Linked DNA regions of Homo sapiens: regions 1 and 2 are each linked to region 3. Evidence: fine-mapped expression QTL. A gene starts in region 3. Each other region holds a variant in brackets. All regions are shown on one strand. Distances are from middle to middle.

Evidence for each region. PIP is the estimated chance that this variant, and not a neighbour inherited with it, causes the effect.
Region 1: its variant is the best candidate, but not a certain one, in a credible set for the expression of RCBTB2 in nasal epithelium (TOPMed, PIP 0.65).
Region 2: its variant is the best candidate, but not a certain one, in a credible set for the expression of RCBTB2 in tibial artery (GTEx, PIP 0.51).

What each region holds. Positions count from the first base shown.
Region 1 is chr13:48,238,087-48,249,282 of GRCh38, reverse strand. The region is part of intron 1 of ITM2B (integral membrane protein 2B); the gene reads right to left. Among named protein-coding and RNA genes, the nearest start is that of ITM2B, 10 kb to the right of the region's middle. RefSeq lists an enhancer at 7,482-7,982. The variant C/A (reference allele first, on the strand shown) is at 6,001.
Region 2 is chr13:48,350,067-48,361,262 of GRCh38, reverse strand. RB1 (RB transcriptional corepressor 1) reads right to left here. Exons shown (of 27, transcript NM_000321.3): 7 at 1,136-1,246. Among named protein-coding and RNA genes, the nearest start is that of RB1, 52 kb to the right of the region's middle. The variant A/G (reference allele first, on the strand shown) is at 3,420.
Region 3 is chr13:48,526,494-48,537,689 of GRCh38, reverse strand. It overlaps RCBTB2 (RCC1 and BTB domain containing protein 2), which reads left to right and starts at 4,610. Exons shown (of 15, transcript NM_001268.4): 1 at 4,610-4,662. LOC124903174 (a long non-coding RNA gene) reads right to left here and starts at 9,986. Exons shown (of 2, transcript XR_007063795.1): 1 at 5,641-9,986. RefSeq lists silencers at 4,395-4,444, 4,555-4,954 and enhancers at 4,995-5,234, 6,125-6,294.

The DNA of each region.
Region 1 (11,196 bases), 290 kb after region 3:
GCTAAGTGAAAGAAGTTTAGCACAAAAGATTACTCACTATATGATCACATCTTTATCAAATTCTAGAAAAGGCAAAACCATAATGACAAAAGCAGCTTACTGGCTGGGGAAGGGGAGACTGACTACAAACAGGCATGAGGAAACTAATTACTTGGGTGATGGAAATCTTTCGTATCTTGATTGTTGGGGTGGATATATGACTTTATACAATTACCATAAATTCAATCAAATTGTACACATAAAATGCAGGAGTTTTATTCCATGTAAATTATATTTTGATATGGAGGGTGGGGAAGAAATCAACTGAGTTCCTGTCTACCAGGCAATAAAAGAATGTCTAACACCAAGTGCTAGAAAAAGTGTGTAACAAAGGGAACTTGGGAACTTCCACTCAATTGACAGAAATTTAGGTCCAACTGCTTTGGAGAACAATTTGGCAGTATCTAATAAACATACATCAAGCTTGTCCAACCCGTGGCCCATGGCCGTGTGTGGCCCAGGACAGATTTGAATGTGGCCCAACAGAAATTCACAAACTTTCTTAAACCATTATGACTTTTTTTGTGATTTTTTTTCCCAGCTCATCAACTATTGTTAGTGTATTTTATGTGTGGCTCAAGACAATTCTTCTTCCAATGTGGCCCAGGAAAGCCAAAAGATTGGACACCTCTGACATACATTTATCTTATGACCTAGCAATTCCATTCCTAGGTATAAATCCTGGATAAACTTTTGAATATGTAAGGAAATATGTCCAAGAATATACACTACATTGTCAGCAACAAAAAAAAAATTCGAAATAAATTATTATAGATTCATATAATACTGCTAAAAAGATTCAACTAGTGACCAGGCCCAGTGGCTCGTGCCTATACTCTCAGCACTTTGGGAGGCAGAGGCAGGAGGACTGCTCAAGCCCAGGAGTTCCAGACCAGCCTGGGCAACATAGCAAGATCCTATCTCTTTTAAAAAATAAAAATTAAAAAAAAAAAGTACTAGCACTGCTGATTTTTAGATAAGCCTAAGAAACATAATTGCTGACCCCCCCAAAAAAGGCACGTTGCACAACATATAACACCACATATTTAAGTATTATGTAAGTATGTGATATTTAAGACTTTCAAAACATATAAAATATACTTCAGGTTCTCTGTATTTTGTGTGCCTGAAATATTTCATAATTTTAAAAAGAAAAAAACCACTAACAAGTAAGAGCTTCTTCACTGGGGTATATAACTTTACCTGGCCTAATTTAAAACAAGTCACCGAGACGTTTCCTCCCTTCTACTGCAATAAAACTGGTGCACCTTGCATCGCGCTTAAAAGGTAACAGAACTCCCACAGGTGCTGTACAATTATCATCTAATTAATCTTCCTAAACCTCAAGTTTTTTAGCCCAGTTTATAAAAGAAGACACTGCAGCACACGCTGGCCTATAACCACCTTGCAACAGTAGATATAGAAAGACCTGGCTTTCAGGAGCACTCTCACTCTGGCACAGTACTAATTTCTAGTTCAAATAAATCTCAGCATTGGATAATAAAATAAAATTACTTAAGAAGTTATATCTTAAACAAAATGAAGGACAAATTCTTTTCTGGTACTTCAATTAGTTAAGAATTAGGTCACCTCAATCAGTTCCCTAAGAGGCTTTAGTAAATGTGCTTCAATTATAAACTTAAATAAAATGTATATTTTTTCGTATAATTTCAATTCTGTTCTCAAACTAACAAATCACTTTATATTCTTAGGCACCTCTATTTGAACATTTTTTTACAGGATGACTGAAGCTTTTAAGAGACATTTTTCAAAGTGCTCAGATACAATATTTTACATTTCTGTATCAAATTCAACAACAGTGCTTTAGGAATCAGGATACTAATGAGGAAAACAACTCTTAGTGTTAAAAATTATATTATCAAAAAATATACATAAAAAAAGAACCAATACCATTTATTCAACTCAAAATATACTGAACCTTCAGAAATAGATTTAGTTACTCAGAAACATGCTGGGTAACATAGGTAAATATGGGGGTGCATAGGACAGCTGCCCACAGATGTGTTGTTTGGCTGGTATAATGCTTTCCAAAACAGCAAAACAGCTGGGACATTAAAAAAATTTAGTGATTCGCACTTTTAAAAACTAGGATTTCCCGGCCAAGCGCAGTGGCTCATGCCTGTAATCCCAGCACTTTGGGAGACTGAGGCAGGTGGATCACAAGGTCAGGAGATCGAGACCATCCTGGCCAACATGGTGAAACCCGTCTCTAATAAAAATACACAAATTAGCTGGGTGTGGTGGCTTGTGCCTGTAATCCCAGCTACTCGGGAGGCTGAGGCACGAGAATCGCTTGAACCCAGGAGGCGGAGGTTGCAGTGAGCTGAGATGATGCCACTGCACTCCAGCCTGGTGACAGAGCGAGACTCCATCTCAAACAAAACAAAACCAAAAACTAAATTTCCCATCAATGTTCTAGTATTTTCAACTTCTCTCTTATCTTTTTTTTCTCTCTACTTGGAGACCAAATATAGGTTTTGAATTCTGATCTTCACTTCCAGCTATGACTGGGTATACTTCCTTCTGGGATCCTATTTATATTAAATAATCAATCTAAACTACTTCTCCATATAAAGGGTTTTGAGTTCTGGGTTTTGTACACTGGGACATATTCATTTGGTTTCTACATTAGGTTTCTTTCCTCAGTATGAAAGCATCAAAAGGACATGATGTGGTGATCCGCTAATTATTAACTGCACTGATTATCAAATATATCTGGTATATGTAAGACACAAAATCTCTGGCTGAGAAGTTAACAATCCATGAGGACATCAAACATTTGTTTGCATTTTTTCTTATTCACTTAAATCAGTATCTGAATTTTGCTTTTTAATTTGCCTTTTGAAATGAGATTGCTGCTGTCTTGACTGTAGTGAGGAAGTCCACGTGATAAATGTTTGACACATAAAAAGGAAGCAGTTTTCCTAGTGTCTGGCATTACACAGAAAGCTGCTCTCTATATTTGTGAGTACTCTATTTCACAAAGGCCTCTGACCTTCTGTCAATATTAGATTTCATTTAGTTAAGTTAAATTAGTATTTACAGTCAAAATTGGGAATTATACCAACATGTTATGATTAATGAAGTTATGGAATTATTCTGTACTGGAATTCGAACAGGGGAAGGCTTTAAAAAGGAGAACTTAGGCTGGGTGCAGTGGCTCACGCCTGTAATCCCAACACTTTGGGAGGCTGAAGCGGGTGGATCATGAGGTCAGGAGATTGAGACCATCCTGGCTAACACGGTGAAAACCCATCTCTACTAAAAATACAAAAAATTAGCCAGGGGTGGTGGCAGGCGCCTGTAGTCCCAGCTACTCGGGAGGCTGAGGCAGGAGAATGGCGTGAACCCAGGAGACAGAGCTTGCAGTGAGCAGAGACTGCATGCCACTGCACTCCAGCCTGGGCGACAGAGAAAGACTCTGTCTCGAAAAAAAAAAAAAAGAACTTAAACTACAAGGTCTATAAAACAGATTCCTCATTAACATACTTTTTTGTTAAAAAATCCTGCAATATAAAAGCAGTAATATAGAATGAAAAAAAATTAAAATTTAAAGCCACTGCATAATAATGTAACTACTGTCAGAAATCTATGAAACTTGAACCAAATTATTAGCATCACATAAAACTAGCACAGTTTTAGGTTAAATAAAAATAGGTTGGAACTTGAAAAAAAAAACAACAGGCAGATTATCAACGCAATGCATTTAGAACTGGATCATAACTTAATCACTTTTGTATCAGAGACAAGCAGATTAGTGCAAAGTAGAATATTTATATGAATAATAAGTTTAAAATCTCTTATTCTTTTTTCTACATAGTTTAAAAAATGACCATCATTTCTCTACTGTGTTTATTCAATCTATGCTGAACAGAACTGTAACCATTTTTTTTTTTTTTGAGACGGAGTCTCACTGTCACCCAGGCTGGAGTACAGTGGTGCCATCTCAGCTCACTGCAACCTCTGCCTCCCAGGTTCAAGCAATTTTCCTGCCTCAGCCTTCCGAGTAGCTGGGATTACAGGCACATGCCACCAGGCCCAGCTAACTGTTGTATTTTCAGTAGAGACGGGATCTCACCATGTTGGCCAGGCTGGTCTCGAACTCCTGACCTCAAGTGATCCGCCCGCCTCAGCCTCCCAAAGTGCTGGGATTACAGGCATGAGCCACTGCACCCGGCCTTGTATCCGTTTTATAAAGTGAAATTTTAGCAGAATTTCAAATTCATATTGGTGAGTAAAAGGCACTGGGATAGCAAAAAGCCTAGATTAGCACAAACAGGTAAATGTTCATAAACAACAGCATTATATACAAATGTTATTTATTGTTAATAATATCCTTTACCGGGATAAATTGGTGAAGACAGATTTTCTCTACCACTGGCTGAATGAAACTCCACATTGTTACCAGTATCAACAGTTTCCCTAAAAATTTTAAGCACAATTCGAATGCTCTAATTTTATATAATTCATTATAAAATTCAGTGTCAAGATTAAAGAAAAAAAAGAACAAACCTGTTCTAGACTCACTTTTATATAAATGCTGGCTTTTAATGTCTTTCAACAAGATAATTATACATTCATATTCAAATATGGGTAATTTCATTTAAAATGCAGAACTTTTGGTAAGAAAATTCCAAGTATATTCATCTGAAAGTATAACATAATTTAAATGTGGATAGTTAAGAGAAAATTTCTGTCCAAGTTTGGAATTCTAAATGTTAAACAAGATGACTACTAGAAAAAATAGTTCTAAAGATCAGGAATACTTGTCTCTCTACATGTGAGAAGTGCTTTGATCCTATGAGCCCTACTGCCTAGCACTGAAGGCATGTGCAGTAAAAACTCAGTGGTAATATTGAATGTTGCTCCCTTACTCCACCACTCTCCTGGCTCTTGGATCCAGCGGTGTGATTTTCTTCTAAGAATAAATATAGGCATTTAAATAGGTTGTGACTAATTTGGTTTTCATAACTGGTTGGTCTTCCCTAGCTACACAATGTTTCTTGAAAGCTGGGGTGTTTAGCAATTTTTAAATTCCAGGTATAGTACCTGGCTATCCAGTAGGTGCTTCTGAATATATGATCAATACAGTTCTCAGGAATAGATCCCCTATGGAAGTACCATGAAGGTAGTTTAATCCAATACATCATTTACAGATAAATATGAGGCCCAGAGAAGTAAAATTATTTATGTAATATCACAGAGCTAATAAAGTCTGAATATTATCTTGACTCTATGTGCTGCTTAAGGAAACTGACTCAAACAGCTTAGGCAAATTAACTCTGGTAATAAATGAAGTGACAGACACCATGTCACACTTGGATAATACTCCTAACCAGAAACCACATAGCCTGATTTTTTTTATTAAATATATATACTTTTTAATTAATTAATTAATTTTTTTTTGAGACAGGGTCTTGCTCTGTCACCCCAGCTAGAGTGTAATAGTGCAATCACGGCTCACTGCAGCCTCAACCTCCTGGGCTCAAGTGATCCTCCTACCTCAGCCTCCCAAGTAGCTGGGACTACAGATGTGCACCACCACACATGGCTAATTTTTAAATTTTTTTGTGGAGGTGGAGGTCTCACTATGTTGCCCAGGCTGTTCTTAAGCAATTCTCCTGCCTCAGCCTCCCAAAGTGCTGGAATTATAGACGTGAGCCACCATGCCCGGCCCACAGCATGAATTTCTACTGTTGTAAAAGGTTTACTTAAATTGACCCACACTAATAAGCCCTACATGTGTGAACTATTACAAAGGCAGTAATATTACTTTTAATATGTTGTCAAAATTAATAGGGCTTTTCTCTGTTGTTCAACAAATTACAAAGGATGGTAGCAAAAAGTATTAAAATCACATACATGTGAACTTAAAACAATAAAGGAAAATAACTAAGGCACACCAGCACATAAGCATTTCAACATAAATGAAAAAGGCAA[C/A]ATATTAATTACAAAAATGAAACTTTTTTAAGTTAGTTGGAGTAATAATGCCACAAAGCAAAACTACAAAGTTGGTAATGAGTTGCCTCTAAAATTCCTCATGAAGGAGACAATCTTGGAACTTTGAAGAGGACGATCAGAGGATGCCTCATCAATCTTTCTAGACCATCCTGTCTGATCTTAAATTAATGCTAATGGTAATTCAGATGGTTTCCATTATTATCCATTATTAATTATCATTAAGTCAATTTTTAATGTAAAAGGAAATATTCTAACAAATCTTTAAAAAGCTATCAAGATAGCTAAGTTGAAGTTCTAATATTGATTTCCAGTGAAATGTTTGTTTACTTCCTCCTGAAAGCTCAATAAAGCGACAGTAAAGGGATAAAACAAATAAACCTTAAGCCACAAAGAATGAAAATGAATGACAGCAGACAAGTCATGTCAATAAAAATGTTGAAAGCTGAAAGCATAAAAGAAAAAAGAAAAAAAAGATATAAGGAGAAAATCACCAGCCTGTAGACAACCAAAGGGGGAAAAAAAGTCATGTACAAACAAGGAATCAGAATGGCATCACATTAGAAGATAATGGAGCAATGCCATCAAAATGCTGAGAGAAAAATGAATGCTAACCTAGAATTTTACACCCAGATAAATTATCAAATATGAGGATGGAATAACGATTCTGAGACACGTAAGATTTTTTAAAAATTTATCTTTTTCTTCAGATTTATGAAACTGTAGATCTAGCATGTGATAAAGACAAAGGCAATTCTTCCAAGATGATTATGACTCTCAGGACATTTGTATGAGTGCAACCAGTCTGGAATAGAAAACTAATGAATGATGGGCAAGAAATCATCAAAAAAAAAAGAAAGAAAGAAAGAAAGAAACTTGGTAAGTTACCTGGTGAGTTTGAAGACACAGAAAGACAATTATACTGCTGTCAGAGTCTGAGGAATGAATGAGCAGTAAGTATGTAGAAAATTAAGGAACCCTCTCTCCTGCCCCAAGAAGCATGATCAAATTCAGGGAAAATAAAAAGTTGTTATACAAGAATGGAAGTAAAATAAAAGTATACTACAATACTCAAATGTAACTAATGTTTATGTTAATTATAATAAAAAACACTAAATATCAATTTAACCAGAAATTGCTAGAACAGGAGAAGAGATCATGTGTGCAGTGTGTAAATATTCAGAAAAAGCTAAATATTCACCTTCCATGTAGCTATTATCAATAGGTATTATCTAAAACTGCAAAAAATAAAACAAATGAAAACAAACCATGAAACAGCAGTATAAGCAAATATTTAGAATAGATGTTCTGCAAATGTGGTCCAGGAACACACCCGTTCAGGGGGTCCACAAGGTCAAACTTTTTTCATAATAAAACTAAGACTGTGTTAGTTTAAATAATAAAACTGTCATTTTCACTTTCATTCTCTCGCTATGTTTATATACAATAAAAATTGTACAGTGCAATTTTCCAGAAGCTAAGCACCATATCACAACAGACTGAATGAAGAATTTGATAGGAAAATCCGGCTATCTTCTATTAAGCTATTCAATAAAGGGCACTGCCGAATGTAAAACAATGTTACTGTTAGTCTTCTTAAATCTTTTTGGTTATTTGGAAATATATATAACCTACATAAAGCAAAAGCTCTTTGGGATCCTGAACAATTTTTAAGACTATAAAGGAGTTCTCAGAGCAAAATGTTTAACAACCACTGATTTAGAGAAATAGGGAGTTAAAAGAGAAACATGGAGGGCCAGGTGCTATGGCTCAGCCTGTAATCCCAGCACTTTGAGAGGCCGAGGTGGGTGGACCACTTGAGGTCAGGAGTTCCAGACCAGCCTGGTCAACATGGTGAAACCCCGTCTTTACTAAAAATACAAAAATTAGCTGGGAGTGGTGGTGGGCACCTGTAATCCCAGCTACTCGGGAGACTGAGGCAGGAGAATCACTTGAACCTGGGAGGCGGAAGTTGCAGTGAGCCGAGATCATGCCACTGCACTCGAGCCTGGGTGACAGAGCAAGACTCTGCTGCCCGCCGCACCACGCCCTACTGGGGCAAAAAGTGAGAAACATGGAGTTAAGATCGCCATGTATGGTTGGGCAGGTTGTTTCCAGTACAAGGATGCCAGGCCAAGGGAATCAGTAGGTCTAGAAACCAACTGATGCTCTATTCTCCAAACCACCAGAGAGGGGATCTTTTTCTAAATTGCACAAAGGCAGAAGAGGGTCTAGTGGTCACCATGGTAATAAAAGACCATAAGAAGCTAATAAGTGAATATGATTGCTTTGAATTAATCTATGGGGAGAAAAATTAGAATAGTGGTTACCTCTAAGGAGAACAAATTGTAAAAGGACACAAGATAACTTTCTGAGTTGATAACAATGTTCAGCTTGATTGGGAGTTAGAGCCCAGGTATACAGACTTAAAATTATCTAACTGTACACTCATGATCTATGCATTTTACTGTATACAATGATGCTACAATTTTTTTAAAGTATGTTCCTCTGACATAGGGCAGGACTATATATTTGCATATTAAAATTTAGTATTACTTTGGTAAAACTCAAATTCTATTAACACCTATTATGTAATGAATAAATAACATTTTTAAATGAAATCGGTACAGCTACTGAATCCTAAGGGTTTTTATGTTGCAGGAATCAATCTTTACCAGAATGCCTTGCTGTGAAAAAAGTACCAACAATATTGTTACTGACATGTGAGGCAGGGATAAGCAGTAACAGTAATATAAGAAGTAATATTCCAAAACAAGAATGATGAGGAGAGAAAACTGGGACTTTAATAATAGTAGTTGATCAAGAGGTCAGGAGTTCGAGACCAACCGGGCCAACATGGTGAAACCCCGTCTCTATTAAAAATACAAAAAATTAGCCAGGCATAGTGGCAGGTGCCTGTAATCCCAGCTACTTGGGAAGCTGAGGCAGGAGAATCACTTGAACCCGGGAGGCAGAGGCTGCAGTGAGCCAAGATCACACCATTGCATTCCTGCCTGGGTGACAGGGCAAGACTGTTTCTCAACAAAAAAATAAATAAAAATAACAGTAGCTGAAATCTACTAATTTTTAACTCTGTTCCAGGCATTGTGCTATTATTGTTACAGATTATTATTTTCCCTATTTTGCTGATGAAAAAACTGAGACACAGAGAACTGAAGTAACTTACCCAAGGTATCAAAGTAAGTGATAGAGACAAAATTTAAATCTTTTGAAGAATGACTGTATAACCTGAATTCTGCTAGTGCTGCTGCTTCCTGAATAGCAGCAGCCCCTCCCCAACAATTCAGTGAGGGTACTGGGCAAAAAGGAGAAATATCATTCCTTTGATATTTTTCCCAACCATTAAAAAATATAAAAATCATTCTTACCCCATGGGCTACAGAAAAACAGCAGGCAGGCAGTATTTGAAGATATAGGCTATAATTTGCCAGTCCTGCGTTCCACTTTAAAGGAGATTATAAAATAGTGGCCCATGCCTTCAGTGTTTTGGGCTAAAATTGTTGTATAAATTAAAATAGTACTGATTTTTAGCTTGCCTTGGAAAATTGGAGGATCCAGCAACACTGGACTCATGTTTTAAAAATGAAAACCAAGAATATTCTTTTGTTTTTTGAGACAGAGTCTTGCTGTGTCACCCAGGCTGGAATGCAATGGCGCAATCTCAGCTCACTGCAGCCTCCATCTCCCAGATTCAAGCGATTCTCCTGTTTCAGCCTCCCAAAAAGCTGGAATCACAGGCGCATGCCACCACGCCTGGCTAATTTTTGTTTTAGTAGAGACAGAATTTTGCTATGTTGGCCAGGCTTATCTCGAACTCCTGACCTCAGGTGATCCACCAGCCTCAGTATCCCAAAGTGCTGGGATTACAGGCGGTGGCTTGCGCCTGGCAGGAAAACCAAGAATATTCTTACTTGTTTCATATGCAAAAAGTCCAGCTTCAACAATTCATCTGCTTCAGCCCAGGAGACACTGAATTTGCCTTCTCTGCTTAAGATGCCTAGCACGGCCCTAGGTAAAACTGATAGACAGGAAATTTTATGTCCCAGTATTAAAGGGAGGAAAAAATGAATTGGATAAAGTTATATAAAATGAAAAACTGAAAACTGATAATGCAAAGCTAAATAGACTAGCTCTCAAAAATCATTTTCCCCAGCATAAAAATGGGTCTGCTTTTGGATACTGCAGAGATTCAAGTGATTTAATTAACAATGCATCTTTTAAAATTTTTATATAAAATAATTTAAAACATTATAATCATATATAAGCAGAGAAAATAGTTAAGACTTAAGCTTTATCCTTAACTCATTCTGAAAACAAACAACTTTTAAAAATAATTTGCATCTTGACTGCTCTGCCTATGCAGTACCATTCTTTTACTCCTTTACTTTCTTAATAAACTTGCTTTCACTAAAAAAAAATAATAATTTGAGCCTTAAAGTTAATCATTCAAATAAACACAAAAATCCACCAAACTTGTTTTTTAAAGTATGAAATTCAACTATGCCAAAAACGGTTTATGCAAATATTTCAAAATTTCAAAGTACAAAATATCCACCACCATACTTAGTATCACTTTCCCAAATAAACGTCCAGGATATTTAACTCAGAAGTGGTATTATATATAAGCTGTGAAAATTTTATTTCTCTTTTGTCGTACTTATGTTAGTTCAACATCATAAAATTATTGCTGGTAACTTATCAGTACTGAAAGATAAAACATTAAGTGAAAAATCAGAATATATCTCTACCATAAAAACAAGGGTAATTTCCTCATCGCTACAACTCAAGATTCAAACTTTTCTGTTTAAGAATAAAAAGTCTACGTTCATTCTTACCTGATTTTTCCCCAAGTACAATTATAGAAATACTGCAAAAAGTTTTTTCCTCTAATAAAAGAGCTTAAAGAATGCACAATAATTTAAAATAATCTTGTTCATTCAATTGTTGATAACACTTATAAAATGAGGTTGTATTGTAGATCTCCTTAAAGCTATTAAAAATATGTGTTGTAAGTACTAATTAAAAGGGATAATCACAATTAAGTGGAAATTTTTCAAAAATGATGTCCTTAGTGTTATAATTTCCAATTTTCAACTTTCAGCTGTCTACTTTGGAAAAGACTTTCATTGTGAAGCACAGCTCCAGTGTTAATATTTT
Region 2 (11,196 bases), 180 kb after region 3:
TTCACATGTACATTTGAATTATCCAAAAGAACAAAGATTGTCAACCTAAAGTAACTTGCAACATCAACTTATTAAAGTTATAACATTGAAAAAAGTGGGGAAAGGGTATATAAAGGAAATTTATAAAATTTGGGAGAAAATTTGAAGTATATTTGTTTTCTATATAGAATTTTTTTTATTTCTTTCTTTGCATGTGGTTTCTGCTAAATGAAGGTTTCTGCCTTCTCTGCCAAACCATGTTCAACACATCTTCAAAATTCTGCTCCATACTTAATTTTTCCACTAAATTCTTGTTCACAAAGTTTAATGAGCCTTCATCCTTCCATCCATTTCAACAACACTTTGAAACTTCCATGTTATCTATTATTTTTAGCATTAATACTTTCATCATTTCAGAAGCAAGGAATTAGTCTGACCTTAAGTAAGTTTACATTTTTCTGTATATAATAATATAATAAGTGACTTTGAAATCCTACTCTTGAAGCCATGAAAGGAAGCAATTCTAGGCTAAAAGGAATATACCTTACTCATACTTCCTTAATGCTATCTAATTATATTAGCAAGTTATTTTTATTTAAATATACTTCCCATCTCATCACTCATCACCCACTGAAATAGTATGAGTTATAGCTTATATACAAAAAAATACATAGTTATTACAACATCCAATAGTAATAAAAACTTAGTTAAGCTGTTCCCTTAGAATAGGCCACTCTTCCCCATGCAATTTCATTCATATCTTTTTCTTGTTTCTTGCTTTTCTTCACTGGGAATGCCCTCCCCCAACACTTTACTGAGAATGCCTTTCCCCAATCCTAACCACTCTTCCATGTTAATTTCAAATACTACTTCTTTTATATGGTATTCTTTGGTCTTCCACAGCTGGAAAAACTTTCTTGTCTCCCAAACCTCCATTTGTTGTATTTTGACCCAAACCACTTTCTACCATATACTCTAATCATTTGTTTCCATGTCTTATCTTTCCTTCTATAACTTACACTACTTATGGGCAAAGTCCATGTCTGATTTATTTTTTATCATCCTGTCAGCCTTAGAACCATGTTTGGTACCCACTAGACATTCAATAAGCAACTGCTGAATGAGAAAGTAAAAGGGGCATAAATTAAATACTTACTATATGGTTCTTTGAGCAACATGGGAGGTGAGAGTTTAATAAAATAGTCAAGGACACATAGCATTAACTGAAATGAAATCACCAGATCATCTTCCATTTGTAATACTTCCCCTGAAAAAAAAATGTACATTTTTAAAGAAAGTTAGAGATTCAGATCTTTGTATGAGAGAAAATCGCAGGGTAGAGTATATCCATAAATTTATTCATTCAACAATCACTATCAGCATGGTAAAGATTTTCTTTCTTTTTTTTGTAAAAAAAAAAAAAATCTGTTTTAAAAGGTATAAAATATGTAAAATAGAAATATGTAAAGTTATGGAATTATAAATCAAGTGTTAAGTCTACTCTGAGAATTTTACATTTAAGTATTTCTGTTATAATTAATTCTTTATGTCTAAAATCACTATAAATTTTGCTTTTTAAATTTATTTCTAATTTTAAGAACTATAGAATGTATTACTCCAGAGAAAGATTTTGAAGTATGATAAATGCTAATCTTTAATTCTAATTTTATAAATATTTTATTTATATTTGTATAATATTTTATTATAATAATTAGAATTCAAATTTTTAATTCCACTTTTATAAGTATATTTATTATATAAAATTACTAAGTTTATTAGAATTTATTCTAATTCCAATGATTCAATTAATTCTCATTATCTAAAAATTTAAAATAATTATTTTATTTATAAAATTATGATTTTATTCCAATTATTTATATCTAAACCTTATATATTTTTAATTTCAACCCCTCTAAAATCTTACAATAACCAAAACCATTAAGAGATAACAAAATTAGTATATAAATTTAAAGTCATCTATAAAATAATTGTTCACCATAAAATCTTTAAAGTTATTAGAATATATATACAACTAGATGGCTGTGAGAAAATAAATGCATATAACAGATACCTAAGAAAACAAATAGTGTAGCTACATAAAATATACAAATCATGATAAAACACAGCTATTACAAATTTGCTTATGGCTCCATGTCATACATTATTTTTAAAAGAGAAGTTCAATTTGATTCACTTTCTATTTTCTGAGTATCTGACTGCTAAACCAGTAATAATCTCAGCAAACACTGGATGTGCAGAAACTTTGTGAGAAAACAGATAACGTTGCATCTTTATAGGTTTTCTAGATACAATGGTATGGTGCAAAAAATATGTCTGCAATATATTCACAAATAAGTTATTTTAAAATACCATAGTGGTAAAGAACGATATCAAGGATTTCTAGGTAAAAACGGTGAAGTCAGATGAAAGAATCTCTCTCAAGTACATTCTTTTGCTTTCATTTTATTAGGTATTAAAGTGCTGGTACCAATATCAAATGAGAGACTGACTGAGCGAGACTAACTCAAACGGTATCCTCATCTTTTGCCTCTCTGACTTGGAGGGAGAAACTGCTGATAAGAGAAGAGTAAAATGGAGGAAGTAAACAACTATAGCTTATTTTTCTGACAACACAGAGACTCTGCATACTGTGTTGAACTGGGGACAATTTGAATCCCAAAACAATCCTGCTATAGAAAAAAGATAAAACTGCCACTAGAAGTGTTCTGTTATAAAGTTCATTCTAACAAAAACTCAGAACAACGGCTTGTATCATTACAGTTGAATTATCTACTTTCTCCCTTACCTCCTGACTAAAAGCAGATATAATAAAAATGCCTGCTCCCATACCATAGCTCTTTGGGGAACATAAACAAGTCACAGATTAAGTGCAGAGTGAAGGGATATTCACTCACATTAAATCAGAGAAAACAGAACATCAAATCAGGGTTACACATATACAGTCCCAGCAATACGAGGGGGAAAAGCACAGTGATTATGTAAACATAGAAAATCAAAAAAGAATCACAACATAAGAAGGGGAAAAAAATCAGACAGAGAACCCAATCTGAAAGATAATCTAAAAGAAGAAAATGCCCTATGAGTGCTTGCACTAAGAACTTAACCAGCTGAGGCTGATTTGAGTGATAACTCCAGTTCTCCCACATGGGTCAGCCTAGTGGTCAATTAAACTATCTCTACTGCAATGCCACAATCTTGGTGGATTGATTTTGTCTGTGCAGCCAGCAGGAAGAACCCATTGGGGGATTACACTTTCCCTTTACATTCCTTATCGCAAATGTAGTTAAGTATTTCTGTGATTGTTCATTTAATGTCTATCTCCCTTACTTGACTGTAAGTTCTAGCTGAGCAGGGAACATATACATCTTCCACCACTTTAACCTAGCACGTAATATCATGCTTGAGACATTGTAAATTCT[A/G]ATAAATAACTAACTGTTGAATCAATAAATAAATGGTAATATTGAAGCTTCTCCTGATCATCATCTTACCCTCTCTGATGCACAACCATGACCTTTAGTCACCTGTAATGTACTATATGAAATGTAAACGTGCCTCTGAGATAAGAGGGTAGCATCACCATCACCACCTCATAGCTTTTACTTGGCAGCCATCACATCACTAAGTGTACCCCTCCCTGTAGAGACCTGATGCTAATCTAGAGTCCTTCTTAACACAATGGGCCGGGAAGCCACTAGCAATTGATCTGGGTTAGCAGGAGGGTTAAAATCCATTTGCTATTCTCAATATATTTGTTTAGTGATCCAAATACATATTATTGAATAATTCGTCTATTATAAATCCAATTCAATAAAAATGTATCATAAAAAGGAAATTAATGAACAAATTATATAAAAGGAAGGAACTAGACAAGCTAAGAAAAAAGATGAGGACCAAATAACACCATTACAAAAATAGTTTAGCTCAAAATGGAAAAAATGCTTGAGATAAAAACAGCCAATATGTAAGAAAAAGATTTAAAAATTCAGAATAATATGAGAGAAGACAATAAATAGGGAGAATAAAAGCAATCCAACATAAGAAAATGTTCCCAAAATACAATGGTATAGAACAACCTAGCTGAATAGAATATTTTTAAATAGAGTATGTTAAGATTTTCTAAAATGAACAGCAGAACCTTCAGTTTAAAAAGGGATACGGTGTTCAAAAAAAAAAAGCTAATACAGAATAACAAAATCAAGAAATGTTATCCTGTTTAAGGTATTAAACCTCAAATTAAAAAAAAAATTCTTCAGGAAGTAAATGAGGAGCGGAATTACGCTAGTCTCAGCTTTCTCAACAGCAATGTTCAATGCCAGAAAATATTGTCCTGAGGGAAACAAAATATGACTCAAGAATAGAATACATGACAAAGCTGTCCTTCAAGTATAAAAGCTATAGACATGATTCCTAAACATGTCAAACATAAAGAACATGGAACCAAAAAGCATATTTTTAAAAACTTGTTGATTGTAAAATACAGCCAGCTAAGAGATGAATAAAAATAAAGAACTGAGAAATGGAGAAACTATGATATAGGAGTTATGATAACCTTAGAATCCATTTAAATACAGAACTGAGACTAACCAAATGCAATAATTATAGTGACAAAATAGAATTTAAATGTTATAATACTTGATAATGTCATAACAATAAAATGGACTAATCTGAAAATGGAGAGGGGGAGGCACCAGGAAGAGTGAAGATAGTAACCTTCTTCAAACCAGATTAAAGTATATTGCTTTAAATAAAAACACAAACTTAAATAAAGATTGTAACCTCTTAATTTTTTCACATTTTTTCATAATCTTAGAGAAATAATTTTAGAAATAATATCACTTAAAGTGACAAAATACTTATCTAAATTTAAGCAATTCCTTCCATTTCTCTCTTCTATAAAATTTCAGTGAAATTAATTTTTATATTTTAAAGGTAGCACTGTAATATGAACCTAGTTTTAGAAAATTATATTCGTGAATGCACTCAACTACCCATCTTTTTAATCAAAATGTATATATGAAGATATCTGGAATGACAATTACATAATTTTTTAAATTTTAATTTTTGTGGGTACATAGTACATATATTTACGGGGTATGTGAGATGTTTTGATACAGGCATGCACTGTGAAATAAGCACATTATGCAGAATGGGGTATCCATCTCCTCAAGCATTTATCCTTTGAGTTACAAACAATCCAATTACACTCTTTAAGTTATTTTAAAATGTACAATTAAGGTATTATTGACTAAAGTCACCCTGTTGTGCTATAAAGTCTTATTCATTTTTTCTATGTTTGTGGACCCATTAACCATCCTCACCTCTCCCAAACCTCCACCACCCTTCCCAGCCTCTGGTAACCATCCTTCTACTCTCTAGGTCCATGAGTTCAGATTTGATTTTTAGATCTCACAAATAAATGAGAGTATGTGATGTTTGTCTTTCTGTACCTGGCTTATTTCATTTAACATAATGATCTCCAGGTCCATCTATGTTGTCGCAAATGACTAGACCTTGTTCTTTTTTATGGCTGAATAGTACTCCATTGTGTATATGTACCATATTTTCTTTATCCATTCATCTGTTGATGGACACTTAGGTTGCTTTCAAATCTTAGCTATTGTAAACAGTGCTGCAACAAACATAGGAGTGCAGATACCTCTTTGATATACTGACTTCCTTTCGTTGGGTATATACCTGGCAGTGGGATTGTTGGATAATATGGTAGCTCAATTTTTAATTTTTTTGAGAAACCTCCAAACTGTTCTCCATAGTAGTTGTACTAATTTACATTCCCACCAACAGTGTACGGGGGTTCTCTTTTCTCCACATCCTAGCCAGCATTTGTTATTGCCTGTCTTTTGAATATCAGCCATTTTAACTGCAGTGAGATAAATACCTCATTGTAGTTTTGATTTGCATTTCTCTGATGATCACTGATGTTGAGCACCTTTTCATATGCCTGTTTGTCATTTGTATGTCTTCTTTTGAGAAATGTGTATTCAACTCTTTTGCCAATTTTTTGGTCAGATTATTAGATTTTTTCCCATAGAGTTGTTTGGGTTCCTTATATATTCTGGTTATTAATTGCTTGTCAGAGGGGTAGTTTGCAAATATTTTTTCCATTCTGTGGGTTGTCTCTTCACTTCATTCATTGTATCCTTTGCTGTGTAGAAGCTTTTTAACTTGATATGATCTCGTTTATCCATTTTTGCTTTGGTTGACTGTGTTTGTGAGGTATTGCTCAAGAAATTTTTGCCCAGACTGATGTCCTGGAGATTTTCCCCAATGTTTTCTTATAGCAGTTTCATAGTTTAAGGTCTTAGATTTAAGTCCTTAATCATTTTGATTTGATTTTTGTATATGGTGACAGATAGGGGTCTAGTTTCATTCTTCTGCATATGGATATCCAGTTTTCCCAGCACCATTTATTGAAGAGACTGTCTTTTCCCCAGCATATGTTCTTGGCCACTGTCAAAAATGAGTTCACTGTAGGCATGTGGATTTGTTTCTGGGCTCTCTGTTCTGTTCCACTGGTCTATGTATCTGCTTTTATGCCAGTACCATGCTGTTTTGGTTACTATAGCTCTGTAGTATAATTTGAAGTCAAGCAACGTCGTCTTTCTGCTTAGGATAGTTTTCGCTATTCTGGGTCTTTTGTAGTTCCATATAAATTTGAGGACTGTTTTTTCTATTTCTGTGAAGAATGTCATTGGTATTTTGATAGGAATTGCATTGAATCTATAGATTGCTTTGGGTAGTATGGACATTTTAACAATATTAATTCTTCCAATCCATGAACAACATAAAATTTTTTTCCATTTTTTTGGTGTGCTCTTCAATTTCTTTCATCAGTATTCTATGGTTTTCATCATAGAGATCTTTCACTTCTGTGGTTAATTCCTAGGCATTTTATTTTATGTGTGGCTATTGTAAACAGGACTACTTTTTAAATTTCTTTTTCACATTATTCACTGTTGGCATACAGAAACATTACTGATTTTTGTATGTTGATTTTCTATCCTTCAACTTTACTGAACATGTTTATTAGTTCTAATAGTTTTCTTGTGGAGTCTTTAGGTTCTTCCAAATATAAGATTGTATCAGCTGCAAACAAGGATAACTTGACTTCTTTCTTTCCAATCTGGATTCCCTTTATATCTTTTGTCTGACTACTCTATCTAGGACTTCCAGTACTATGCTGAATAACAGTGATGACAATGGACATCCTCATCATGTTCTAGATCTTAGAGGAAAGGCTTTCAATTTTTCCCCATTAAGTATTATACTAGCTGTGGGTCTGTTATATATGGCTTTTATTACGTTAAGGTATGTTCCTTCTATCCTCAGGTTTTTTAGGGTTTTGGGCATGAAGGATGCTGAATTTTATCAAATGCTTTTTCAGCATCAATTTAAATGATCATATGATTTTTGTCCTTCATTCTGTTGATATGACATACCACATTGATTTGTTTATGTTGAACCATCCTTGCATTGCAGGGATAAATCCCACTGCGACATAATGAATGATCTATCTAATGTATTATTGAATTCAGTTTGCTAGTGTTTTGTTGAAGATTTCTGTATCAATATTCCTCAGAAATACTGGCCTATAGTTTTCTTTTTTTAATGGGTCTTTATCTGGTTTTGGTATCAGGGTAATACAGGCCTTGTAGAATGAGTTTAGAAGTATTTCTTCCTAGTCTATTTTCCAGAATACTGTAAGTAGGATTGGTATTAGTTCTTCTTTAAATGTTTGGTACAATTCAGCAGTGAAGCCATCAGGTCCCAGGCTTTTCTTTACTAGGAGACTTTATTATGGCTTCAATCTCATTACTTGTTATTGGTCTGTTCAGGTTTTGGATTTCTTCCTGGTTCAATCTTGGTAAGTTGTACATGTCTAGGAATTTGCCCATTTCTTCTATATTTTCCAGTTTATTGGCATATAGTTGCTTATAGAAGCCACTAATGATACTTTTAGTTTCTGCAGTATCAGCTGTAATGTCTCCTTTTTCATTTCTGATCTTATTTGTATCTTCTCTCTTTTTTCCTTAGTTAATCTAGCTAAAGGCTTGTCAATTTTGTTTAACTTTTTAAAAAAACACTTTGTTTCATTGATCTTTTGCAATTTTTTCATTGCAATTTCATTTATTTCTGCTCGATCTTTCTTTTCTTCTACTAATTTTGGGTTTGATTTGCTCTTATTTTTGTACTTCTTTAAGATACAATGTTAGATTGTTTATTTGAGTTTTTCCTCTTTTTTTCACCTATAACTAACCCACAGCCAACATCATACTGAATGTGCAGAAGCTTGAAGCATTCCCTTTGAAAACTGGCACAAGACAAGGATGCCCTTTTTCACCACTCCTATTCAACAAAGTATTGGAAGTCCTAATCAGAGGAATCAGGTGAGAGAAAGAAATGAAGGGCATCCAAATAGGAAGAGAGGGAGTCAAACTATCTCTGTGGCAGATGACATGATGCTATATCTAGAAAACCCTGTAGTCTTAGAGCCAAAAAGCTCCTTCAGCTGATCAACAACTTCAGCAAAGTTTCAGGATACAAAATCAATGTATAAAAATCACTAGTAGTTCTACACACCAACAAGAGCCAAGCTGAGAGCCAAATCAGAAAGGCAATCCCATTAAAAATTGCCACAAAAAGAATACATAGGAATACAACTAACCAGGGAGGTGAAAGCTCTCTACAACAAGAATTTCAAAACACTGCTCAAAGCAATCAGAGATGACACAAACACATGGAAAAACATCCCATGCTCATGGATAGGAAGAATAAATATCATTAAAATGGCCATACTGCCCCAAAAAAATTACAGATTCAAGGCTATTCCTATCAAACTACCAATGACATTCTTCACAGAAATAAAAAAAAAAAAACTATTTTAAAATTCAACTGGAACCAAAAAAGAGCCTGAATAGCCAAGGCAATCCTAAGCAAAAAGAACAAAGCTGGAGGCATCACATTATCCAACTTCAGACTATACTACAGGGCTACAGTAACCAAAACAGCATGTTACTGGTACAAAAACAGGCACATTTTTTTCAGAATAATGTAAACCAATGGAACAGAATAGAGCACCCAGAAATAAGGTTGCACACCTAGGACCAGCTGATCTTTTTGACAAAGCTGACAAAAGCAAGCAATGGGGAAAAGACTCCCATTTCATTAACTGGTGCTAGGATAAGTGGCTAGCCATATGCAGAAGATTGAAGCTGGACCCATTCCTTACACCATATACAAAAATCAACTCAAGATGGATTGAAGATGGCCAGGCCAGGTGTGGTGGCTCATTCCTGTAATCCCAGCACTTTGGGAGGCTGAGGTGCATGGATCACCTGAGGTAGGGAGTTCAAGACCAGCCTGGCCAACATAGTAAAACCCCATCTCTAGTAAAAATACAAAAATTAGCCGGGCATGGTGGTGCACACCTGTAGTCCCAGTTACTCAGGAGGCTGAGGCAAGATAATCACTTAAACCCGGGAGGCAGAGGTTGCAGTGAGCCGAGATTGTGCCACTGCACTCCAGCCTGGGTGACAGAGTGAGACTCTGTCTCAAAAAAAAAAAATAGATCCTAGACATAGGAACAGGCAAAGTCTTCATGATAAAGACACCAAAAGCAATCACAACAAAATCAAAAATTGACAAGTGGGATTGAATTAAACTCAAGAGCTTCTGCACAGCAAAAGAAACAATCAACAGAGTAAATGAACAACCTACAGAATGGGGAAAAATTTTGCAAACTATGCATCTGACAAAGGTTTAATATCCAGCATTTATAAGGAATTTAGACAAATTTGCAAGAGAAAAAAAACCAACCCCACTAAAAAGTGGGCAAGGCACATGAACAGACACTTTTCAAAAGAAGACATACATGCAGCCAATAAGCATATGAAAAAAAAGCTCCATATCACTGATCATTAGAGAAATGCAAATCAAAACCACAATGAGATATCATCTCACACCAGTCAGAATAGCTGTTACTATAAAGTCAAAAAATAACAGATACTGGTGAGGTTGCAAAAGAAAAGAGAACACTTATACACTCTTGGTTGGGAGTGTAAATTAGTTCAAACATTGTAGAAAGCAGTCTGACAATTCCGCAAAGAGCTAAAAGCAGAACTACCCTTGGACCCAGCAATCCCATTACTGAGTACATACTCAAAGGAATAGAAATCATTCTACCATAAAGACAAAAGCACGTGAATGTTCACTGCAGCACTATCCACAAAAGCAAAGACATGGCATCAACCTAAATGCTCATCAATGACAGAATGGATAAAGAAAATGTGGTACATATATACCATGGAATTCTATGCAGCCCATAAAAAAGAATGAGATCATGTCCTTCACAGGAACATGGATGGAGCTGGAGGCTATTATCCTTAGCAAACTAATGCAGGAATAAAAAACTAAATACTGCATGGCCTCACTTATAAGTGGGAGCTAAATGATGAAAACTGAAGAACACAAAGATGGAAACAACAGGCACTGGGGTCTACTTGAAGGTGGAAAGTGGGAAGAGGGAGAGGAACAGAAAAAATAGCTATTGGATACTGGGCTTAATTCCTGGGTGATGAAGTAAGCTGTACAACAAACCCCTGTGACACAAGTTTACCTATGTAACAAACCATCACATGTACCCCTGAACCTAAAAGTTTTTTTAAAAAAAGATGTTTTCCTCTTTTGGGATGTAGGCACTTACAGCTATAAACTTCCCTCTGTACTGCTTTTACTGTATCCCATAGGTTTTGGTTTGTTATGTTTCCATTATTTGTTTCAAAAATTTTTTTAATTTCCCTCTTAATTTCTTCATTGACCCATGGCCATTCAGGAGCATATTGTTTAATTTCCATGTATCTGTACAGTTTCCAAAATACCTTGTTATTAATTTCTAGTTTTATTCTATTGTGATCAGAGAATATGCTTGATATTATTTCATGCTTTTTTAATGTTTTAAGCCTAACACATGGTCTATCCTTGAGAATGATCAATATGCAGACAAGAAGAATGTATATTCTTGGATGAAATGTTCTGTAAATATCTATTAGATTCATATGGTCTATATAGTGCAGATTAAGTCTGATGTTTCTTTGTTGATTTTCTGTCTGGAAGATCTGTCCAATGCTGAAAGTGGGGTGTTGAAGTCTCCAGCTATTTCTATTGTATTGGGGCCTATGT
Region 3 (11,196 bases):
AAAGCACAGGCAACTAAAGCAAAAATAGACAAACAGAATTACATCAAACTGTAAATCTTCTGTACAGCAAAGAAAACAATCAACAGAGTGAAGAGAAAAGCTAGCAAGTTGGAGAAAATATATGCAAACCATGCATCTGTTAGGGCGTTAATATCCAAAATATATAAGGAATTCAAACAATTCAGTAGCAATAAAACAACCCAATTTAAAAATGGGCAGAGGACCTGAATAAACATTTATCAAAGAAGAGCTACAAATGGCCAAGTAGATGAAAAAAAGTTCAACATCATTAATCATCAGGGAAATGCAAGTTAAAACCACGATGAGATATCACCCCACACCTGTAAAGATGGCTATTATAAAAAAGATGAAAAATAACAAGTGTTGGCAATGATGTGGAGAAAAAGGAACCTTTGTTGATGGGAATGTAAATTAGTACAGGCATTACGAAAACCAGTACAGAGGTCCTCAAAAAATTAAAAATAGGACTATTTTTAGCAATCTCACTACTGAGTATATGTCCAACAAAAATGAATCAGTATGTTGAAGAGATATCTGTGCTCCCATGTTCACTGCAGCACTATTCACAATTGTTGAGATAAAGAATCATCCTTAGTGTCCATTCATGAATGAATGGTTACTTTAATTTCCTACCATTGCCCTATTCCCTCCATATAGCCTTTGTTTCAGCCTTACTGAGCAATTTATAATTCTCAAACACATCATATTTCTTATTCTACTTAGACTACTTCCCTTCCCTAACACTTCCATCCCTAACCTTTGTTCTCTTAGCTAACTCACACTGACTCAGCCTCCCAAGTGGCTGGGATTACAGGCACCCACCACCATGCCTGGCTAATTTTTGTATTTTTAGCAGAGACGGGGTTTCACCATGTTGGCCACGCTGATCAAGAACTCCTGACCTCAAGTGATCCGCCCATCTCCGCCTCCCAAAGTGCTGGAATTACAGGCATGAGCCATGGCACCCAGCCCACACTGAAAACTTAATGCTAAAGTAATCTGTTTTGGAAAGCCTTCTCTGATCACCTCTTGGTATTTTGTCATTCTTTCACTATTGCCACAGTAAGTGTATATGTGCCTATTATCATCTTTATCACTTTTATATTCTAACACCAATTATAATACCATGCTGACATGCACAATTCTATACAGCATGGTAATAGCATGCATCAGTAAAGGTGCAGTGTGACTGATACCTCTACAAAACACAGAGCTGGGCAGTGCACCAATTTAATGGAGTCTGAAGGAATTTAAGTTCTAGAAAACTAAGGTGCTACCCAAGGTCATTCACCTAATCAATGGCACTTAGGGCACCAAAGTGCAGGCTGCTTGCAGTCATTCATTCATGCATTCAATCTGTAACAAGCAGACTGATGTAGAAATTTACTGGTGCTAAATTTTTGTTCTGGAGACGCAAAGAGGAAAAAAAGAACATTTTCCTCTTCCCTGAAGCGTAATTAGACTTTCTGAATTTCCAAGAAAAAGTCAAAAGACGGCCCCATCCACCTTTTCTTGTGATTAGGGCCTTGGTGCCTGGATACCTGAAAAGAAAAAAGCAAGATGAATTCCTCTGCTTTTGGATAACTAAAGGAGGCTTAAAGATACCCCAAAAGCAGAAGTAATTAGGGGGTTTAAAAAGGGAAGAAAGGGAAGACTTTTATTGCAGCTAGATCCCCATTGTGGGCTGGAAAAGGACAAGGGCTCCTAGTTTCACAAGAGTAGTGTCATGAACTTGTTAGGACATAAGAAGTGGCAGGACTAAAACCATGTCTTGAAATAAAATTACTAAGGGAACGAGAAGATAGAGAAGTCCAAGAACCAAACTCTGGGTATGCCAATGGCTGGAGAAGTGGTGGATGAGCCAATGGAGCTGCCAGTGAGATGGACGAACCAAGAGACAGGGGCCACCTGAAGGCCAACAGAAGAAGATGAATGCTTCAAGATGGCAGCTGTAAGCAAATGCTTCTAATGCTGCTGATAGTTCAGGTGAGATAATGGAAAAGTAACCACTGATTTAGCAATTCTGAGGTCATTGGTGACTTTGCCAAGAGGAGTTTCAATGGAGGGGTAGGGGCAAAAGCCTGGCTGAAATAGATTCAAGAATGAATAGGAGGGCCAAGCATGATAGCTCACATCTATAATCTCGGCACTTTAGGAGGCTGAGGTGGATAGATCACCTGAGGTCAGGAGCTCTAGACCATTCTGGCCAACATGGCGAAACCCCATCTCTATTAAAAATTCAAAAATTAGCTGGGCATGGTGGCACACACCTGCCGTTCCAACTACTTGGGAGGCTTAGGCATGAGAATCACCTGAACCCGGGAGGTGGAGGTTGCAGTGAGCTGAGATTGCGCCACTGCACTCCAACCTGGGCAACAGAGCAAGATTCTATCTCAAAAAAAAAAAAAAAAAAGAGGATGAATAGGAGGAGGGGATGAGGATACAGTTAGTATAAGTGACTCTTTTAAGACATTTTGGAAGAGACCAGAGAACACATTGGTAGCTGATAGGGGACATATAATCAAGGAACTTTTTAAAAGATAGGCAAATGTTGCGCAATGTTAATATGCTTATGGGAATGATCCAAAAATTAATGATACAAAAATTAATAATGTAGGATTGAGAGGTGACAACTACCTGAGTGAAAACCTTGAGACTGTAAGGAAGACAGGATCTAATACAAAGGTGGAAGAGTTGAACTTAAATAAGAGCATGCACAGCTCATTCCCAGTAATGGGAAGGAATAGAGTGCACAGGTACAGATGTAGGTAAACTTGGGAGATGTGGTGATGGGAACTTTAACTCCTGAAATACTAACCTATACTCTCTCAGAGTCTAAATTTTTAGTCTACTGAATTCAGCAATACAGTGAAGTTTAGTAGACCAAATTATCCAAAAGTGTTGAAGGAAACTTATATGTGATGGAGACATTTTTACTTCTTACTTTTAATTTTGACCGCCCTGGGAAAAACTGTTGGACCCATATAAAATTAAAATCTTTAGTGAAACACATTCTTTTATAGGTATATTTTAAAGTTTTAACTTCTGAGATAATATCACAGTTTTCAAAACACTAAGACATGTTTTTATTGTTAGCTAATTGTCAGGCTTCAGCTGAAGCACACCGTAAGGCCTGCATGAACTTCAGCTGTCCATAATGCGTAAAAGACCAAGTGCGCAAGGCAAACAGATCTTGCCATGGTTGCTGATGAAAGAAACTTAATCTCTTGGGGCCTGAGTTGCCTTATCTGTAAAGTAAGGATAATCCTTGCCTTACAGGATTATTGTGAGCTCCAAATAAGATAAACCTCTTGGCACACAATAGGTGCTTAAAAAAAAAATGCCAGCTATCATCACTGAAGTGAGCTTTTTCTGAGAGCAAACCTGTTTAACTCATAAATTTCTTTCATTGATAAGATGTAACCAGTGGAGAAACTTGGGGCAGGCACACGATGCCTCTCTGCACTATCGCTGCAACTTCCTGTTAATGTATACTTACTTTTTCTTCCATTTAGAGCTCTACAAGAAATACCTGTGTACCATTTTGCGTGCCTCCTTCTGAGGCTCAGTGGGCTATGCTCAGAGAATAGAGATAAATGTCTGCCCTATGTAGCAGAAAGGCAGTTATACATTTTAGAATGATGTTTTTCCGAAGAAATGACAAAAGCCAGACGAAACAGACTGACACGGTCACTGTGGTTTGGAATGTTAGTTTTTCTCTTTGGCTTTACTACTTTTGGCTCTACACTGTAGAGGAACCAGTGTCCTCATGAAACAGCCAGTATAAAAGCAAGTAGCTTACTTCACAGGAATAGCTAATAACATTTAATTGTTGAGCATTTAACCAAAACCCACTCAGGTCAATTTAAGTGTAGTGCAGTGGAAGAAATTATTGCACACTGCAAAGTTGTGGTGCATTTTACTTAAATCTACAAAGGCCAACAGAAGTGCAGTGTAATATAATAAATTACTGCAAAATATAATCATAAGGGGAGAAGGTGGCTGTTTTCGAAGCCCTTGGCCCCAAGGTAACTGAGGTCATCCCCCTGAACCCCCCAGCACACATCCTCATTATTTCAGCATTTGTACTACAGGGGGCTACAAGACTTCCGCCCCACAGCAATGGGGTGAAAACGTGAAGTGATCGGAGCCCCCAGATAGAGGGGCCAGCAATAGAAGAAAAGCTGGGGCAGGCTGGAGGAGAGGGGCTGTGGAAAAGGTTGCTCTCAGCATCATACACGCCTTATCCTTCTAGGTCGGGTATCCACAAATTCCCAAAATTTGCGAGAACATAACCCTGGAGAAGGTGGGGGTGACCCACGGAGGAACTCCCTGGAAAAGCGGAGGCGGCCCCAATGGGAGACTCCCGGGGGTCAACTCCGAGGGGAGGGGGCGTCTGCGAGAAAGGGGAGGGGCGGCGGTGGGCAGCCTAGGGAGGAGAGGAGGGGCGAGACGCCGTCGCCAGCCCCCTCCTCTTGTCTGCGCTCCCTTCGTTTCCGTCTCGGCCGGGCACCCGAGCGCATCCCGCCGAGGCCGGGCCGTTTCAGGGGGAGGCGCCAACTCATCGCGGCGCCGGGCCCCTGACCGTGCAGTAACCGCTACCCAGGAGGCGGAGCGGACAAGGCTCCGGCCTGCGAGGAGGTAAGAGGGTGGAGGAGTGGTGTGGGAGGCCGAGGGGGATCGCGGCCGTGACGTGGGATGCTGTCAGGTACCACTGGGGCAGGCCACCCCTCCCCGCCCCTGCGGCCCGACCTCCCCGCCAGAGACAGCTGAGGGGCCCAGGGGACTAGAGCCGCGACCGTGCCACAGGCCTAGGCGTCGTCGCGCATGCGTAAAACTGCTGGCGGGAGTTAAGAGCTAGGTTCCGGGGCTACACCCAGCCCAGGCCGCAGGCAGAGGCGGCCCTGCGCATGCGCAATTCCGCTGGCGTGGGCCCGGTGCGCTGCTCGCGACTACATCCTGCCCAGGCCGCCGGCCCAGGCTGCGCTGCGCATGCGCGAGTCCTCTGGTAGGGGTCGCGTTTGGCGTCGTTCCAGGGTGATCATCTGCTCGGAGGCCGCTCTCATCCTAAGCTCCCACGTCTGGTGTGGCTGGGGGGGCGTCACAGGTCCCGAGGGAGCGTCCTGCCTGAAGTTTCTCCCTCCTAACCCACTCGCTGCACTGCATATGTTGCCGATGTTTTCATTTCTGTGGCCTCGACCCCTAGGCTCCCGTCCCATAAATCTAGTACCCCAGGTCCCGGGCACCGGCCCGGCTCACTAACTCAGTGGCAGTATATGCTTTCGACATTTGGTCCTGATGTCCAGGAATAGCGCGAAAAGTTTGACTTTGTTAGGCGAAGCCGTTTTGGAACTGCGGAGGGATGGGAAGAAATCGCCGAGCGTCTTAAGCCGCAACATAGTGCTCTGCTCAGCCCTGGAAATAGAGGTTTTCAGACATTGAAAACTTTCCAAGTGCTCCGTCTTGGCGGAGAAAGAACTGAGTTGGAAGGCTAATTTAGAATGAACTTTTTGCTTTTGTTCTTTGCAAAAATTACATAAAATGTTGCAACAGTTCGAGACCAGGACTATAACAAAACGCATTTCATGGAGCTACTTTGTACCGCGCTTGGCGACTTACCTTGTCAGAGCTGAATAAAAGTGGTTGAGTTCACAAACAGTGCTCTGGATCGTTGCTCTTTCCCCCAGACACTGTTTAACGTTTATTGAGCCTCCTGGCTTTGCACCTTCCTAGTATTGCGTTCCTGCTGGGTTTTACACCTTACTAGACAGTGGGTCTTAGTTAAGTCAGTTTCGTGACTCCTGGGGCTACTGTGAAGAGTTTCTAACAATGTCATTACTCTGTGCTTTGTAATCTTATATGATGTGCTGATACAGATATTTGGGGGCTGGAATAGAAGAGCCACTTAGGCTCAGAGAATGAGTATTCTAGGTGAAACGTAATCTCTTTATTTCCTGCTAGACAGTACATGCGTGTTATTAAGCAGCAGGTAAAAGCAACAAGAATGATACGTTCTTGCATACCCCACTTCCACCACTCAGGCCTTATTGCTCTTGCTGGGCTCGCCAAGCGGACCCTCATCCCAGGGCGTCTGCGTTTGGTATTTCCAGTATGCTCAATGCTCACTTTCCCACTCTTCGCAAATCTGCATGGCACAGAACTTTATTTAAGTCTTGAAACAATTGCCATCATTTCAGAGAGGTGACTACCTCACCTAAAATGTCTGGCTCTCCAAACTCTTGTACTGCTGGTTCGGCTTTGTAGCACTTAATCACCATCTGATATTATATATTTGTAAGGGTATGATCAATCTATCTCCACCATAATTGAAGCTCAGAAGGTATTTGTTAATTGTAGAAATAAAATTGGAAACTAACTTACTCCAGAGATATTTTTTTACTGAACTCAACCTAGATTCATTCATTTATTCAACAAAAATTGATTTTCTATCACGTCCTGTCCTTGATGCTTGGGATGCATCAATGAACAAAAGAGACAAAGATCCCTTCCCTCTGGAGCTTACATTCTAGCAAAGAATGATAAAAAACATATTTGTATATTAGGTTAGAAAAGTACAAATGCTATGAAAAAATGAAAAAGGAGAACAGAGAAAGGGAATTGGGAGTGCAGGTGTGGGTTGCAATTTTAAACATCATGGGTACGGTGAGTCTGAAGGATAAACCAAAGGTGATGTTTAACATGGGGAACTGGGTTTTAGAAATAAATGTTCTTCTGGGAGAAAACGTTCTTTATCGTGCTCTACAATGTCTTTTATGGGAGCCCACGGCATGACCCTTGTGATAAACGTCACCATTTTTTATAGTATATAGGTGAAAAAACATTTTTTTCCTAAATAAGAGTTCAAATTATTCAGGAGTTTACAGTTTAACTTAGCACATCAAATGAAGACACTGGACTTTTACAAGGAAGAGCTAGCCAGACATCTATGTAAATTGTGCTGAGAAAAACTGTACGTTGTCTCCACAGTTTTTGCAATTGCTTCTAAATGTCCCTCTGACTGTGGATGACTAGTGAAGATCTTTTCTAAGAATGGTCATTGCTTTTCTGTATTTGAAACTGTGTAGGAGAGGAGCTTAAATCACCTGGTGTGATGTTATGCTATAAATGACCTCTCTTACAGGTATCTGAATGAACCAGATAGACCTAACTAAATTTCAATCCATAATTAAAGAAGGCTTAGAGAAAGAGGGTGATGGAGAGGAATAATTTTAGAAAGTAAAGTGTGTTTCCCCTCATGTCCTTTACTTACATAGATTACAAATACTCTGTTCAAACACCAAAATATTATTAATCTAGGACCATAAATGTAAGGAGTCCATGGAATTTGCTTATGCCCTATGAAATTGTCATATTCAAGTTTGGTTTTATCAGTTGGTTAAAGTAAAATTTAAATGCCCCAAGATACTGCTACTGTTGAGGTTTACTTGGATTTAAATTACTACAAATCAGGCCGGGCGCGGTGGCTCACCTGTAATCCCAGCGCTTTGGGGGAGACCAAGGCAGTCAAATGTTCTTGAGCCCAGGAGTTAGAGACCAGCCGGGACAACATGGCAAAACTCTGTCTCTACAGAAAAACGAACAAAAAAAAAATGAGCCAGGCATGGTGGCACACACCTGTAGTTTCAGATACTTGGGAGGCTGTAGTGTGAGGATCACTGGAGCCGGGAAGGTTGAGGCTGCAGTGAGTCATGATCACACCATTGCACTCCAGTCTGGGCAATAGTGTAAGACCCCATCTCATAAATAAATAAATAAATATTGCTACAGATTAAAATTGTCCAGGAAAAGGTAGATTGGAGACCAGGAATTATTGGGGTTACAGAGTGACATTAAGGACTCTTGTTAAAGACTAAAAGAGAGTTCTACTTGGAGATTTTACTTCAAAGGAGTGGATGGCTTGCCTCCTGGTAAGGGATATTGATAATGTCCATCAATGGAAGGCTGAGATGATACTTCCAGCTTTCATTGTCTGGAAGGAACATGTATCTAGTTCACATGGTGATCACATTCTAACAACGTGAAAGTTTCCAGGAAACTTAAACCATAATAATTTTTCAGCATTAATTTGACATTAGAGTGGGTTTCTTTTACGTCTTCAGCCTTGCTAATTGGCCTGAGCTAATATCTCTTATGTATATCTCCCTATGGAAGATGTTTTGAGCTAACAAGTACCAGTAGGAGATAGTATGTGAATAAAACATAAATTTTGACTGCATTATAATATGTCCTGTATTATGCTGCGTGTATGTATGTATATAATACTGAACAAAACCAATCTCAAGTGGAAATGAGCCAAGGCCAAGAGGGCCTGCCATGTTGAAGGAATATATATGCTGTGGGTCAAAGATCTTTAACAATTAGGATCTCTGTAGCAGGCGTGTTAAGATTTTTTTTTGAAAAATTGGATTAAATCTATAAGGACCGAGATTTAAAATGGATTTACAAATGAGATCTCAAATCTCAACTCACATTAGTGCATATAACAACTTAAAAATATTTTTATCATTTATGTTGGTTATTTTTCATATTTGAAAATGACACTTTTGCCGTGTGTGGCTGAAAAGACTGAAGTTGTCAAGCTCAGTAATCTTTTCAATTAAATACCGCTTTGCTTTGTACTGAAGATCTGACTCATCACTCTTGTTGAAATTTGGAAAACTTTTTAAAAAAACAAATAATTAAAATAGCAACAGGGTTTCTGTATTCTACACAACAGTTTTCTGTTTTTCATGAACATATGACAATACCATTTCCTTTGAGGTTGTGTGCTAGTTTTAGTTATGCTTTTAGTGTTTTAGTTTTGTCCGTCCTGTTTATAATTGTTCCATTTTAATTAGCCATGTAGGTATTTTACTGTTACTTGTCATTGATTTTAGACATCTCATTTAAGTGGAGCTAATATTACAGCTAACACTATCCCTTTTTGCAAGTGAAAACTGGGATCATGTTTTATTGTATACGTATTTATATTATTTATAACTTGAAGATGACCCTTAAAAAGCTATTAAAGATACTATCTAATGACTCACCTAAGGATATATTTGGGAACCATCATTATCCTATTGAAATTTATGTGGTCTGCAGCTCATTAACACACCGATGCTGTAAACTGCATGCTGGTACCCTAAAAGATATCGATATTATTTAATTTCCTGTTTCTTTTGATTATAAAAGCATCATCAAATGTGTTACCCACCCAGATGGGATAATTTTAAGCATAGAGTTCTATATTGAGAGAATTCTAAAAATATCAGTGTGTTTCTCAAGCATAGCTTTAGAGTTGATCTCATTAAGTTGAATTTTAAAATATGTAATACTGGGACTTCTCTGCAGGAATTGCTATTTTTTTTCACCCCTTCTTCTGTAATCACTTCTAAAGAAGAATTATTAGCATTTAGAAGCCCCTGATTAACTGCAAAATGTCAGCATTTAAAACCTACCATTGGGTTGGGGTAATGTGGACAGAAGTCCCTAAGAGAGCTGGATATTGTTTTGCTCTACGTTATTCTGTTTGCTCTCATGTATTTGCTTTCAATTCAGTGCCTACTGCAGGCACTGAATTAATATTTGTTGAATGAATTAGGCAAATGAACCTATGTCCCATAATCAGCTTAACTCATTTTTTAGGTCAGAGGTATTACCGAGTAATATAACACATTGTGTAGCAGATACACTGATTAATACTGATTACTTTGCCACAAATAATATGTACAGACTGCCTGTTATATCTTTTGTACAGGCAAATGAATTATTTGACTTTATGTGAGGATTAAGAATGAATGTGTTTATCACATTATCAAAAGAGTGTCCCCTTGTTCAGTAGTCTTCAACTGTGTAGTTTTTAAAAGTGTAGAGAAAACTCTCAACATAGAATATATAGAAATAAGGAGTTATCTGCCCCAAACAGGGATACTTTAAAAATAAATTAGTGAACCGTACAATTAGGAAAACAGCTGAAATAGGAAATGTCATGTGACAGATTACCTTACTTGATATATATTTGGCTTTGAAACATTACTTTTGTACAGACTTGAACTACTGGCCACCGAGTGTCCCATTTGGAACCTTTAAAGACAGAGATCAGTGGCAGGAACTTCTGCGTGGAGAGGTTACTTATCATTCCATTTTCTATTTATATTGCAAGGCAAACATTAGTATAATAAGATTCTGTAAAAACAGTTTTAGGTTACATTTTAATAAAATGAGGAAATAACATAGGAGACTGTTTTGCAAAGAACAAAGCACCTTTTAATATAAATATATATCATATATATATATCATATATAAATATATATCATATATATATATATCATATATATATATATATGAGCCAAGTCATATATCCCAAAACAAACATATAAGGGAAAAACTAATAAAGTAACACATAGTAAGATAGTAAGATAATATTACTGTCATCCTATAGTAAGATGATATGAGATGATCTTATGCTGTAACACTGTCACTATGAAGAAAATCTTCCCAATACTGTTGCCAGCTTCTGCCTTGGCTCTACAAGAAACATTGCCCTCCTATGCAGAAAAGGGGGGACATTTGTAAGCAGATTTAGACCATAAGTAGAAAGCACATTTTTGCCATTTTAATACACTGATATTAAACATTTTTTTAACTATTTTGGATTTTTCTTACAGGTACAATAGTATAAATGCTACTCATTGGATATGTTATTTAATCCTCCTATTTAAAAAAAATCTATTTATTATTATTATTTTTTGAGATGGAGTCTCACTCTGTCACCCAGGCTGGAGTGCAGTGGTGTGATCTTGGATCACTGTAACCTCTGCCTCCCAAGTTCAAGTGATTCTCTTGCCTCAGCCTCCCAAGTAGCTGGGACTACAGGTACACACTCTTACGCCTGGCTAATTTTTGTATTTTTAGTAGGGATGGGGTTTCACCATGTTGGCCAGGCTGGTCTCCAAACTTCTGACCTCAATTAATCCTCCCATCTCTGCCTCCCAAAATGTTGAGATTACAGGCATGAGCCACCGCGCCCAGGCTATTTTTATTTTCTTAGAGACAGAGTCTTGCTCTGTTGCTTAGGCTAATGTGCAGTGGTGCGATCATAGCTCATTAAAAAAATTATTTATTTTTTATTTTTTGAGATAAGATCTTTGTCACCCGGGCTGAGTGCAGTGG